4 linked regions of the Homo sapiens genome follow. The protein of the gene in region 4 purifies or fractionates together with the protein of the main gene of each other region. This does not show direct contact. Each region holds a gene or a part of one and is shown on either strand. Other genes may lie near its edges.

The links.
Region 1: the proteins of TAPBP (region 4) and COPB1 purify together in Homo sapiens (affinity purification with western blotting, with the first as the bait; one study listed by BioGRID). This does not show direct contact.
Region 2: the proteins of TAPBP (region 4) and ADGRG5 purify together in Homo sapiens (co-immunoprecipitation; one large-scale study listed by IntAct). This does not show direct contact.
Region 3: the proteins of TAPBP (region 4) and ADCY9 purify together in Homo sapiens (co-immunoprecipitation; one large-scale study listed by IntAct). This does not show direct contact.

What each region holds. Positions count from the first base shown.
Region 1 is NC_000011.10:14,459,412-14,461,811, forward strand, and holds part of COPB1 (coatomer subunit beta), read right to left. Parts: intron 1,921-2,400; coding exon 1,775-1,920; intron 887-1,774; coding exon 797-886; intron 1-796. UniProt on the Homo sapiens protein: The coatomer is a cytosolic protein complex that binds to dilysine motifs and reversibly associates with Golgi non-clathrin-coated vesicles, which further mediate biosynthetic protein transport from the ER, via the Golgi up to the trans Golgi network.
Region 2 is NC_000016.10:57,563,143-57,566,642, reverse strand, and holds part of ADGRG5 (adhesion G-protein coupled receptor G5 isoform 1 precursor), read right to left. Parts: coding exon 3,396-3,500; intron 2,796-3,395; coding exon 2,664-2,795; intron 1,610-2,663; coding exon 1,493-1,609; intron 1,355-1,492; exon of another isoform or gene 45-1,354; coding exon 1-44. UniProt on the Homo sapiens protein: Orphan adhesion G-protein coupled receptor (aGPCR). Ligand binding causes a conformation change that triggers signaling via guanine nucleotide-binding proteins (G proteins) and modulates the activity of downstream effectors, such as adenylate cyclase.
Region 3 is NC_000016.10:3,966,443-3,969,942, forward strand, and holds part of ADCY9 (adenylate cyclase type 9), read right to left. Parts: intron 525-3,500; coding exon 1-524. UniProt on the Homo sapiens protein: Adenylyl cyclase that catalyzes the formation of the signaling molecule cAMP in response to activation of G protein-coupled receptors.
Region 4 is NC_000006.12:33,301,637-33,304,078, forward strand, and holds part of TAPBP (tapasin isoform 1 precursor), read right to left. Parts: intron 2,354-2,442; coding exon 2,319-2,353; coding exon of another isoform or gene 2,139-2,318; exon of another isoform or gene 1,970-2,138; intron 136-1,969; coding exon 124-135; coding exon of another isoform or gene 56-123; 3' UTR 1-55. UniProt on the Homo sapiens protein: Involved in the association of MHC class I with transporter associated with antigen processing (TAP) and in the assembly of MHC class I with peptide (peptide loading).

The sequences.
Region 1 (2,400 bases), on a different chromosome or scaffold from region 4:
TATAGAAATTTTACATAAAGAAAAAAGTTCCTTAGAGCTCCAGCTTCATTTTTCTTTCTCTCTCGTTTTTTTCATACATACACAAACATAGCAAAAAGTCACAGTATAACAACGATTCTGTATTTGAGCACATATATTTTAACCAACAATCAGAGCCCACGGAAGAGCTCATGGACATTTTCTAATCCAGTATTACAAATAAACGATTTTATTTATCTTTTTGAGACAGAGTTTCACTCTGTCACCCACGCTGGAATGCAGTGGTGTGATCTCGGCTCACTGCAACCTCCACCCCCTGGGGTTCAGGTGATTCTCCTGCCTCAACCTCCCAAGTAGCTGGGATTACAGGCACGTGCCACCACACCTGGGTAATTTTTGTATTTTTAGTAGAGATGGGGTTTCGCCATATTGGCCAGGCTGGTCTCAAACTCCTGACCTCAAGTGATCTGCCCGCCTCAGCCTCTCAAAGTGCTAGGATCACAGGAATGAACCACCATGTGCAGCATAAACTACTTTAGAATGTGCCTCTAGCTGAATGGGGGAGAAGATTGAAAAGAAAATAAAAAAAAAATTAATCTGACTATTCAGTTGGGTCACTGCACTAGGAAAAAGTAGGATGGTATAGTCCAATAGAAAGAGGTAAGCAGATTCCAACATTCTATGGGATAACATCTTTTAGATAGCCTAGAATGGTACTGCATATTGAATAACAAAAATGTGCTAGAGGAAATACAGGAAGGCCAGGAACCTACTCTACCATTCCATCAGATTTCTGAATTTCCTAGTCAAATTTTACCTTTTCTGGAGTCAGGCATTTCATATTGGTTGACTTTAATATGTGCTGTAAGTAGTCATTTAAATCAACCATGTTGGTGTTAACTGTCACCTGTAGAGAGGAAAAAAAAGTCAAGGAGATCATAAATCTTACTATGAGAAAGCTGTGAATCACCAGTATGTCATATTAAAAACTTGTTCCAACTGTTTAGGTTGGAAAGAGTAGACACCAAGAAACTAAATAACATCTATAAAATCCAACAAGCTGTAGGTTGGTATCAGTACTTCCCAATAGAGATAACTTCACAGAGATTCAATATGAAGCATATAGAATATTTCTTTTTTTTTTTGAGACAGGGTCTCACTCTGTCACCCAGGCTAGAGTGCAGTGCGTCATTTCAGCTCACTGCAGCCTCAACCTCCCATGTTCAAGTGATCCTCCCACCTCAGTCTCCGGAGTAGCTGGGACTACCACACCGGGCTAATTTTTGTATTTTTTGTAGAGATGGAGTTTCACCATTTTGCTCAGGCTGGTCTAGAACTCCTGAGCACGAGCAATCTGCCTGCCTCAGCCTCCCAAAGTGCTGGGATTACAGGCACGAGCTACCGTGCCCAGCCTCATATAGAATATTTCTAATAAAAGTCAAGGCTCAAAGGGACAAAGTTCCTCAACAGACCATGAACTTTGTAAAGCCTTTTTCGGGCACTAGATTAAATGGTAAGCTCTTGGTCATACATAGAAGGGATGGAATATTACCTATAATGTCTAAACCTATCAGATTGGCTATAGAACTGCTACTCTAATCAATTTATAACAGCAAATTACCAAACTACTTACATGATTTTTAGTTAAGGCTAATTTGCAAGAACAGATACTGAAAGACTATTTGCTTTTCATGTTAAACACTTTTTAGCGAGATTAATTTTATTAGCAGACTCCTCAACAGCAGGCAAAAGGAAGAAAGATAAAGGAATATGAGAAAATCTCCCAAGGACTAACTTTGTTTTCCCATTCAAATTCGGCCCACATCTGACGGAATTCTGCATCAGTGCAAGTTGCAGGCTGGATATAGTCCATGATGTCGATGTGAATATCACTGAGAACCACACAATTTCTGTCACTTGCTGCTCCAGAGACATCATAAACTGCAATTACATATACAAAAAGATTCGCAATCACTGGGGCAAACTTGAATTTAAAAAATCTTAATATCCAAATATCCAAAGAACTACACTATTAACAATAAGATTGTTTATATAATACTTATTATGTACAGAGCTCTATTCTACATGCTTTATAAATATTACTGGTTTAATACTCCCATCAATTCTGATAGTATTATTATTTTCCATCTTACATATGAGGAAATGAAAGCAGAGAAGTTAAGTAAGTTGTTCCAGATCACACAACTGATAAGTGGTGGGGATAGGATTCGAACTCAGGCACACTTTGTTTTTTGTGGTTAAACAAATAATTCAATTCAGTGAGTACTTACATAGCAGTTGCAGCATACTAGGCACTGCAGCAGATATACAAGTGGACGATGTTCCCATAGGAGGTACTTAACTAATACTTTTGAATAAATATTGCTGACCCATACTACTTAATGATACAAGATTAGTCAT
Region 2 (3,500 bases), on a different chromosome or scaffold from region 4:
CTGGCTCCCTCCTTCCAGAAGACACAGGTCAGGGTGTAGCCTTCCTGGGTGGAGATGCTGGGTCAGTCATAGGGTGCAGAGGAAAGGCTGCAGATCAGTGTCTGGGAGTCCTGGGGGCCAACGGTGACTCAACTGCACATTTGCCAACATTTTACCAGGCACTGGCTGGCCTTTGGCTTCAGACAGTCTCAGATTCCTGTCCCACCTCCACTGTGGGCTCTCAGAGTGACCCAGGCAAGACACCAAGTTGCTCTGAGCCTCAGTTTAGTCATCTACAGAATAGGATCATTCGTACCCATGTTACAACAATGGTGGAAAAACAAAGGGCAACACGGAATCTTGAGTGTCCAGCTCTGGCCTTTTATACAGTAGGCGCTCCATAACCAGCTGATCCCTTCCCTTCCTCCCCATGGGGAACAGCAATGTGCTCAGACCCACGCCTGGTTGGGGGAGACTCATCCACAGACAACCCTAATGCCAAGCCACGTGGGTGGAGAAGTGGAGGAAATGACACAGGTAGTCACGGAAGACCATGGAGGGTAGGCAGAGCTGACCCAAAGGGAGAAGGGGAGGTGGGGGCCCTGAACCCTTAGAGGACGTGTTGGATTTCAACACGAGTAGGGCAAGGGCATTCCAGGTGGAGGGAACCATAGTGGCAAAAGCCCAGAGCTGAAAGGAAAGGATGATGGTGAAATTTAGAGTGCAGGGCAGTCCTGGTGAAGCTGAAGGGAAGATGAAGCCAGAAAGCAGAGGCTCCGGGCTTTTCAGGAATGCCAGGAACCAGAAATGGAGGCACTGAGGCTTGTGAACCACCCCACTCTGCCCCCACCCCCAACAAGCAGCCCTGTCTCTGTTCCAGGATCAGCATCTGCACTTACCCTAGGAGCTCACTCCTTCACCCCAGTCCCTGGGCCGTGTGACCCAGGCCTGGCCAATCCACACATTCCATCCCCCTGGGCACAGTGACAGGTGCAGGGATGGACATGTGTGACCCAGCTGAACCTTTAAGATCCTGAGACCCTGATCTGCACTGGGGCAGGTTGTGGGTGGGGAGTCGGGGGAAGAGCCTGATGGGAAGAGGGAAAGGAAGTCTGGCTCTCCAGCATCCATCATGCCACAGAATGGACAGCCAAGACAGGAGACCATTGCTGAGACGGAGAGAGACTGAGCCACAAGGGCATCAGATCCATCCCTGGATCCAGCTATGTCTGAAGCTGGTGGATCACCTCTAGACATTTCATGGATGTGTGCCAATCAGTTCCCTCTGTGCTCAAGCTGGCTTGAAGTGGTCTTTTCTTACTTGCAACTGAAAGAATTCTGACAAATGCATGAGTAAAAACTTCTCTCTCTCTTATTTCTTGAGCAGGAATTTTCAAAGTGTGATGGATTTCCAAGATGGTTCCACAGGTTTGGGTCTAGTCAAACCAGTGTTCAACAGGAGAGTCACAGAGGGGCAGGGGTGCAGTGGAAACGGGGGCGCCCCCAGCAGTACCAGGCTTTGGTTGTGCCAGAAGCTGATGTTCACAGGATCCCTGAGGTTGTTCACGTGCCCATGACTCAGCTGGGCCCCCAGGACGTAGTTATTCAGCAGAGATGAGTTGTTTTCATCCTGGAAGGGCAGCAGGAGAAGGGCTGAGTGGAGGGGAAATGGGGAGGCCCTGGGTAAGGTCTGAGCTCCGCTTCCCTGGATGAGAACAAGCAGCAAGACTTTCACGTGTGCAGCGTGAAAGCTTTCTCAGCCTCCCAGCCTCCCAGCCTTCCCAGCCTCCCAGCCTTTGCATGTGCTGTTTCTGCCCTGTGGAAAGCTGTCCTCTCACCACCCCCTGCTCCACCTCCCATTCGTTTAATGCATTCCAGCCTCACGCCCTCCACCTCACCACTATCCTCACTCACTTTCAAAGCCAAGGTTGAAAGGCACCTTCCCCAGAAACTCCCCTGGACTGCCCACTGGGAAGAGCCCCAACCCCACCCTGACTCATCCATCACTCTGGATCTCTATGGCTATAATCAACCTTCTGCTGACATTAAATCTCTAAGATCAGGCCAGGCTCAGTGGCTCACGCCTATAATCCTAGCATTTTGGGAGGCCAAGGCAGGCGGATCACTTGAGGCCAGGAGTTCAAGATCAGCCTGGCCAACGTGGTTAAACCCGGTCTCTACTAAAAATACGAAAATTAGCTGGGCATGATGGCACACGCCTGTAATCCCAGGAGGCTGAGGCAGGGGAATTGCTTGAACCCAGGAGGCAGAGGTTGCAGTGAGCCGAGATCATGCCACTGCACTCCAGCCTGGGCAACAGAGCGAGACTCTGCCAAAAAAAAAAAAAAAAATCTGTAAGGTCTTAGTCTAGGCATCAAGACAGAGAGTTATCTGAGGGCAGGGAATAATAAGTGCCTTCTTGTCTGTCTCCCGCCTACCGACAGGCACATCGTAGGTTTCTTAGGTCTTATTTGCAGATTGTAATTATACCTTCCTACCATTCTGCTAAAGTTGGCAGGGAAACTGAGGCCCAGAGAGGGACAATTGCTGGCTTGGATTGCACAGATGGCTGGTTGGTCTCACTCAGTGCTGGTCACCCAGAGGCCAGGCAGTGACATGGGCACCTGCAGTGGATCCCAAGAAGGGGCCGGCACCCACCCTCCTTGGCCCGCCATCACACTGACCTTGAAAAAGTGGGTGTTGGAGAAGTAGATACAGATGAGCCGCAGCTCCCTGGGGCGGGTCTTGCAGGCGTCCCGGGTCAGCTCGGCGGGGAACTGCATGGCGTGCTGACCCCGGGCATGCTGACCTCCTGCCTGCAGAGGGTCGCAAACAGGCTGTTTGGCAACCAGGACCTGGAGACCTGACCCCAACACCTTCACTGCCTCCCACTCCCCGTGAAACCTTCCTTGGGGTTTCCACCCACAGAACCTTCTCCCCCCAGGCTGCATCTCCTCCCAAACTTCCCAAGATCCCAGGCCTTCCCTCCATGCTGTTCCTGAGTTTTGGATGTTTACCTGACCCACTGAACCCCTGAAGATGGAGCTACCTCAGCACCCAGCCCCAGCACCAGCCCCAGCCCCTGCCAGGGATCCAGCTGATCACCCCAGGGTCCTAAAAGGAGCCAGGGTTTCTGGCCTCTCCCACAGCGCCTCCCGCAGCGGGCAGCCTCCAGCCAAAGCAGGAAGAAGATTCTGCCCTGCAGGGGCAATAAAGCACCTCCCTTTCCACAGTTCACACAGCGAGTATGAGCCCCATTTTACAGAGGAGGCAACTCACTGCCAGTTAGGGCAGAGCCTGGACTGTGGGGTGTGGGGAGGAAGACAGTGGAGCCTAAAGAAAGTCCAGACCTTAAATGCCTGGAGGACTTCTAGGGCGGGGCAGCTGGCCACACCCCCCAACCCGCAGCCTCTGACCTGGGGCACCCGCTTCAGAGTGGCACTGGTCAGCGAGAGGCCAGAGAAGTCACAGCTCAGCTTGAAGGCCAGAGACTGGATGGTGGGTGTCTGCAAGGTCAGGTT
Region 3 (3,500 bases), on a different chromosome or scaffold from region 4:
GCGGGTGGCTGCCGTCCTGGGCCTGCGCGGTGTTCAGCCCTGACGCCGCCATGTACGTGGCTCCGATGGTCTTGATCTTCTCGATGCTGCTGTAGTCCGGCTTGCTTAGGAGCTCGTCAAAGTCCCCGATGAGCTCGTTGAGGACCCGGTAGCACTCCTTGCCGCCCTCGTAGTTCTCCTCGTAGAACTCGCTGAAGTTGACGATGCTGGCGAAGATCACCCCTCCGCTGTCATGGTTCTTGGAGTAGGTCTGGGACACCTTCAGCTGCTCAGCCACGTGGTAGGGGATGATGTTCCTCAGCAGCCAGTCTGCCTGGTCCCGCATGCTCTGGATCTTGGTGCGGTGAAGATCCGCTTCCACGTCTCCGTGGTAGTGGAGGCGGTAGCTGACTTCAAATTCGCGATTCAGGAACCAGACCAACAAGAGCAGGAGAAAGAAGACGAGAACCACCTCCTGGCCGATGAGGCTGGCGGGCCGCCGGAGGTCACGCGGCACCGAACTATTGCACGGGTTCCTCTCGGAACTGGAGAGCAAAGACACGGGAAAGGGAGAGGTTACTGCTCGGCGCTTCCAAGCTCAGAACAGCCCCGCTAGCTACGCAAAGCTTTGTTGAGTCCAGGCCTTCAACAACCTGAAGCTGTCAAGCTGCCCATTCCTGGTTTGGGCTGGCTGAAGGTATGGAGGGATAAAGACTAACTTTTGAAACTGATTGATTTCATTTTGTTAAATAGAGGTGGGGTCTCACTGTGTTGCCCAGGCTGGTCTTGCACTCCTGGGCTCAAGCAATTTTCCTGCCTTGGCCTCCCAAAGTGCTGGAATTACAGGCGTGAGCTGCTGTGCCCAGCCCTGTAACTAACATCTTTAGTAAGTGCTTGGTAATCGTTTTTCTTTTCTTTTTCTTTTTCTTTTTTTTTAGAAGTCTTTAGCTTCTTTCAAAAATCTTTTCTTTTCTCTCTCTCCTTTGTTTTTTTAGAGACATGGTTGTTGTCCAGGCTGGAGTGCAATGGCACAATCATGGCTCACTGCAGCCTTAAACTCCTGGGCTCAAACGATCCTCCTGCCCAGCCTCCTAAGTAGCTGGGATTACACGCATGTACCACCACACCTAGCTAATTAAAAAATTTTTTTTTTGAAGAGACAGGGTCTTGCTGGTTGCCAAGGCTGGTCTTAAACTCGTAACTTCAAGCCATCCTCCCACCTTGGCCTTCCAAAGTGCTGGGATTACAGGCTTGAACTGTGCTTGGCCTAACATCTTTTTTTTTTTTTTTTTTTAAGATTGAGTCTTGCTCTGTTGCCCAGGCTAGAGTGCAGTGGTGCGATCTTGGCTCACTGCACCCTCTGCTTCCTGAGTTCAAGTGATCCTCCTGCCTCAGCCTCCTGAATAGCTGGGACTATAGGTGTGTGCCACCATGCCTGGCTAATTTTTGTATTTTTAGTAGAGACAGGGTTTCATCATGTTGGCCAGGCTGGTCTCAAACTCCTGATCTCAAAGTGATCAGCTTGCCTTAAAGTGCTGGGATTACAGGTGTGAGCCACTGCACCCGGCTTTTTGCTGAATGAACTTTTTGAAAGTAAGTTGCTGACATGGCACTTCAGCTCTAAATATTTCAGCATGTATCTCCTAAGAATAAGGATATTTCCCTATGTAACTACAATATCATCATCATACCCAAGAAATTTAACATTCTCTGATATATTTGGTTCTTAGATTTCTTTTTTTTTGAGACGGAGTTTTGCTCTTGTTGCTGGTGAGATCTTGGCTCACTACAACCTCCGCCTCCCGGGTTCAAGTGATTCTCCTGCCTCAGCCTCCCCAGTAGCTGGGTTCACAGACATGTGCCACCACACCCAGCTAATTTTGTATTTTTAGTAGAGACGGGGTTTCTCCATGTTGGTCAGGCTTGTCTCAAACTCCCGACCTCAGGTGATCCGCCCACCTCAGCCTCCCAAAGTGCTGGGATTACAGGTGTGAGCCACCGCGCCTGGCCTTGGTTCTTAGATTTCTAATCCAATAAACTTATCATTTTACAAATAGCTTTTATGAGTTCTATACTCTCTACCTGTATAAAAAAGTTTGACAAGACGCCATCTCCCCTGATTCTGGGTTAGTTCTTTTTGCCGAAATCACTCAGGACAATGCTAACATCTGAACCAGTGCCATTATTTTCTCATGGCTGTGCAGTGTTCCAGCACTCGGAAATTCTGTAATTTAGCCAGATTCCCCCTGATGGAACTGGGCCCGAGTCTGTCTTTTCTTACCACAAACAGTGTCACAGGGAATATTCCCCTACCCCTATCTTTGTGCGTATGGAAGTGCTGAGTCATTTTAAATATTGCACATTTAGAATTTCCTTAGAAATTTCCAAATTGCCCTTCTAAACAAGGCTGAACCAGTTTCTGCTTTTTTTTTTCTTTTTTTTGAGAAGGAGTCTCGCTTTGTTGCCCAGGTTAAAGTGCAGTGGCGTGATCTCGCCTCACCACAAACTCCGCCTCCTGGGTTCAAGCAATTCTCCTGCTTCAGCCTTCTGTGTAGCTCGGACTACAGGTGCACGCCACCATGCCCAGATTATTTTTGTACTTTTACTAGAGACAGGTTGGTCTCAAACTCGTGACCTCGTGATCCACCCGCCTCGGCCTCCCAAAGTGCTGGGATCACAGGCGTGAGCCACCGCGCCCAGTCTCTGCTCCCTTTGATAACTGAGCCTGCTTTCAGCGGGGCTGTCTCCACTTCAGTGGCACTGATGGAGACAGCCATGGTCAGGGGGCTGCAGATGAGTGGTGAGTAGCACAATTTCTTTTTTTCTTTTTCTTTTTTCTTTTTTGAGACAGAGTCTCACTCTCTAGCCCGGGCTGGCATGCAGTGGTGTGATCTCAGCTCACTGCAACCTCCACCTCCTGGGCTCAACGATTCTTGCGGCCCAGCCTCCTGAGTAGTGTGCGCCACCAGGCCCAGCTAATTTTTGTATTTTTTTTTTGGTAGAAACGGGGTTTCACCATGTTGGCTGGGCTGGTCTCAAACTCCTGACCTAAAGTGATCTGCCCGCCTCGACCTCCCAAAGTGCTGGGATTACAGGTGTGAGCCACCACACCTGGCTGAGTAGCACAATTTCTTAAAGTTTGTTTGAAATATATATATATATATATATATATATATATATATATATATGTATTTTTTTTTTTTTTTAAGAAGAGACAGGGTCTGTCTCTGTCATCCAAGCTGGACTGCAGTGGTGCGATCCTAGCTCACTGCAGCTTTGACCTCCCAGGCTAAAGCGATCCTCCCGCCTCAGCCTCCAGATTAGCTGGGACTACAGGCACACACCACCACACCTGGCTAATTTTTTGAACTTTTTGTAGAGATGAGGTCTTACTATGTTGCCCAGGCTGGTCTCAAACTCCTGGGTTCAAACTGTTCTGCTTCTGCCTCCCCAGTGTGCTGGAATACATTTTTTCCCATTTAAAAATACTACATACTCATCATAGAAAATGTAGAAAAAAA
Region 4 (2,442 bases):
AGCCACTCAGTGGAGAGAGATTGGAGGGATTAGGAGCAGATGATAGGGTATTATTTTAGGGAGCTACTACAGAAGCTTGGGCCAGAGATGATGGTGGCTTCCACAGGATGGCAGTGAGTGCCCTCACTCTGCTTTCTGGAAGAGAGGAAGGTGGTGAGGAATTCAGGATATTAAAAGGCAGTTGAGGTGTACATGGTCAGTTTAGAGACATATAAACTATCATGGGCACAGATGATGGGAGAAGGATGAGGCTAATATTTTCTGCCCTCCAGACACTGCTGAGTGCTGTATCTCCTGCATCTTCTTAAGGAGATACACTGTCTTCCTTAATCCTCCTAAAAGTCCTCTCAGGCTCCGCTGTCCAATATGACAGCCACCACCCACATTAGGCTATTGAGCATTTGATATGTGGCTAGTCCGAATTGAGATGTGCTGACTATTTAAAATAAACACCTGTGTTTGAATACTTAAGGTGAGAAAAGGGCTGCAATTTATTTTCTTTTCTTTCTTTTTTTTTTTTTTTTTTTGAGACAGGGTCTCACTTTGTCACCCAGGCTGGAGTACAGTGGGACAACCTTAGCTCATTGCAGCCTCACCCTCCCAGATTCAAGCGATCCTTCTGCCACAGCTCCCCAAGTAGCTGGGACTATAGCTGTGTGCCACCATGCCCAGCTAATTTGTTTTGTTTTGTTTTGTTTTGTTTTTTGAGACAGAGCCTCACTCTGTTGCCCAGGCTGGAGTGCAGTGGTGCGATCTCGGCTCACTGCAACCTCCACCTCCCAGGTTCAAGCAATTCTCCTGCCTCAGCCTCCTGAGTAGCTGAGATTACAGGTGTGCACCACCATGCCCGGCTAATTTTTCTGTATTTTTAGTAGAGACGGGGTTTCACCATGTTGGCCAGGCTGGTCTTGAACTCCTGACCTCAGGTGATCCGCCCTCCTCAGCCTCCCAAAGTGCTAGGATTACAGGCGTGAACCAACGCACCTGGCCAAGACTGTAATTTCTTTTTCTTTTTTTTTTGTTGTTGAGACGAAGTTTTCCTTTTGTCACCCAGGCTGGAGTGCAATGGTGTGATCTCAGCTCACTGCAACCTCTGCCTCCCAGGTTCAAGCGATTCTCCTGCCCCAGTCTCCCGAGTAGCTGGGATTACAGGTGCCGTCACATCTGGCTAATTTTTTGTATTTTTAGTAGAGATGGGGTTTCATCATGTTGGCTAAGCTGGTCTTGAACTCCTGACCTCAGGTGATCCTCCCGCCTCGGCCTCCCAAAGTGCAGGGATTACAGGCATGAGCCATCGCACCCGGCCTGTAATTTCTTATATTGTTTACATGTTGCAATAATATTTTGGATGTACAGGTTGAGCATCGCCGATCCAAAACTCTAAAATCTGAAATGTTCCAAAACCTGAAATTTTTTTAGTGCCAACATGATGCCACAAGTGGAAAATCCCACAGCTGCCCTCATGTGATGGGTCACATATATTATTAAAAATATTGTGGTCGGGTGCAGCGGTTCACACCTGTAATCCCAACGCTTTGGGAGGCCAAGGCAGCGGGCGGATCACCTGAGGTCGGGAGTTCGAGACCAGCCTGACCAACATGGTGAAACCCCGTCTCTACTAAAAATACAAAAATTAGCCAGGCGTGGTGGTGGGTGCCTGTAATCCCAACTACTCGGGAGGCTAAGGCAGGAGAATCGCTTGAACCTGGGAGGTGGAGGTTGCAGTGAGCCGAGATCGCACCATTGCACCCCAGCCTGGGCGACAGAGACTCTGTCTCAAAAAAAAAGAGAAGGAAAAAAATCTTCAGGCCATGTGTATAAGGTGTATAGGAAACATAAATGATTTCTGTGTTTAGATTTGGGTCTGATCCCAAAGATATTAAATATATGCAAATATTCCAAAGTCTGAAAAAATCCAACATCCAAAAACACTTCTGACCCAAGCATTTCAGATAAGGGACCAGAATTATTAGATTAAATAAGGTATATTATTAAGTTAATTTTACCTGTTTCTGCTTATTTTTTTAATGTGAGTACTAGAGTATTTAAATTTACATATGTGGCTTGCATTATCTTTCTATTGGACAGCACTGCCTAAGTAACTTTTTAAAATCCCTACACCCAAGGAAACATATAGATTAAGTAGCATGCTCAAAGAGTCCTACAGTTAGGATATAGTGCCAGGTTTTAACCCAGATCAGTGTGAATTCCAAGCCTAGGTTCTGCCTACCACACCAGCAGCCTCCCTCCATGGGTTTTGAGATAGGATGAGGAGATAAAGTGACAAGGGAAAGATACAGAGAGGTGGAGCACTGTACCTTCTTTGAATCCTTGCAGGTGGACAGGTAGACAGCTGTGGGGAAAGATTGAGAAGGGATGGGATGCTGGAGTGGTAGAGGTGGAGGGCAGAGGGATGGGTGTCAGGCTCTTGGGAGTAGGTGG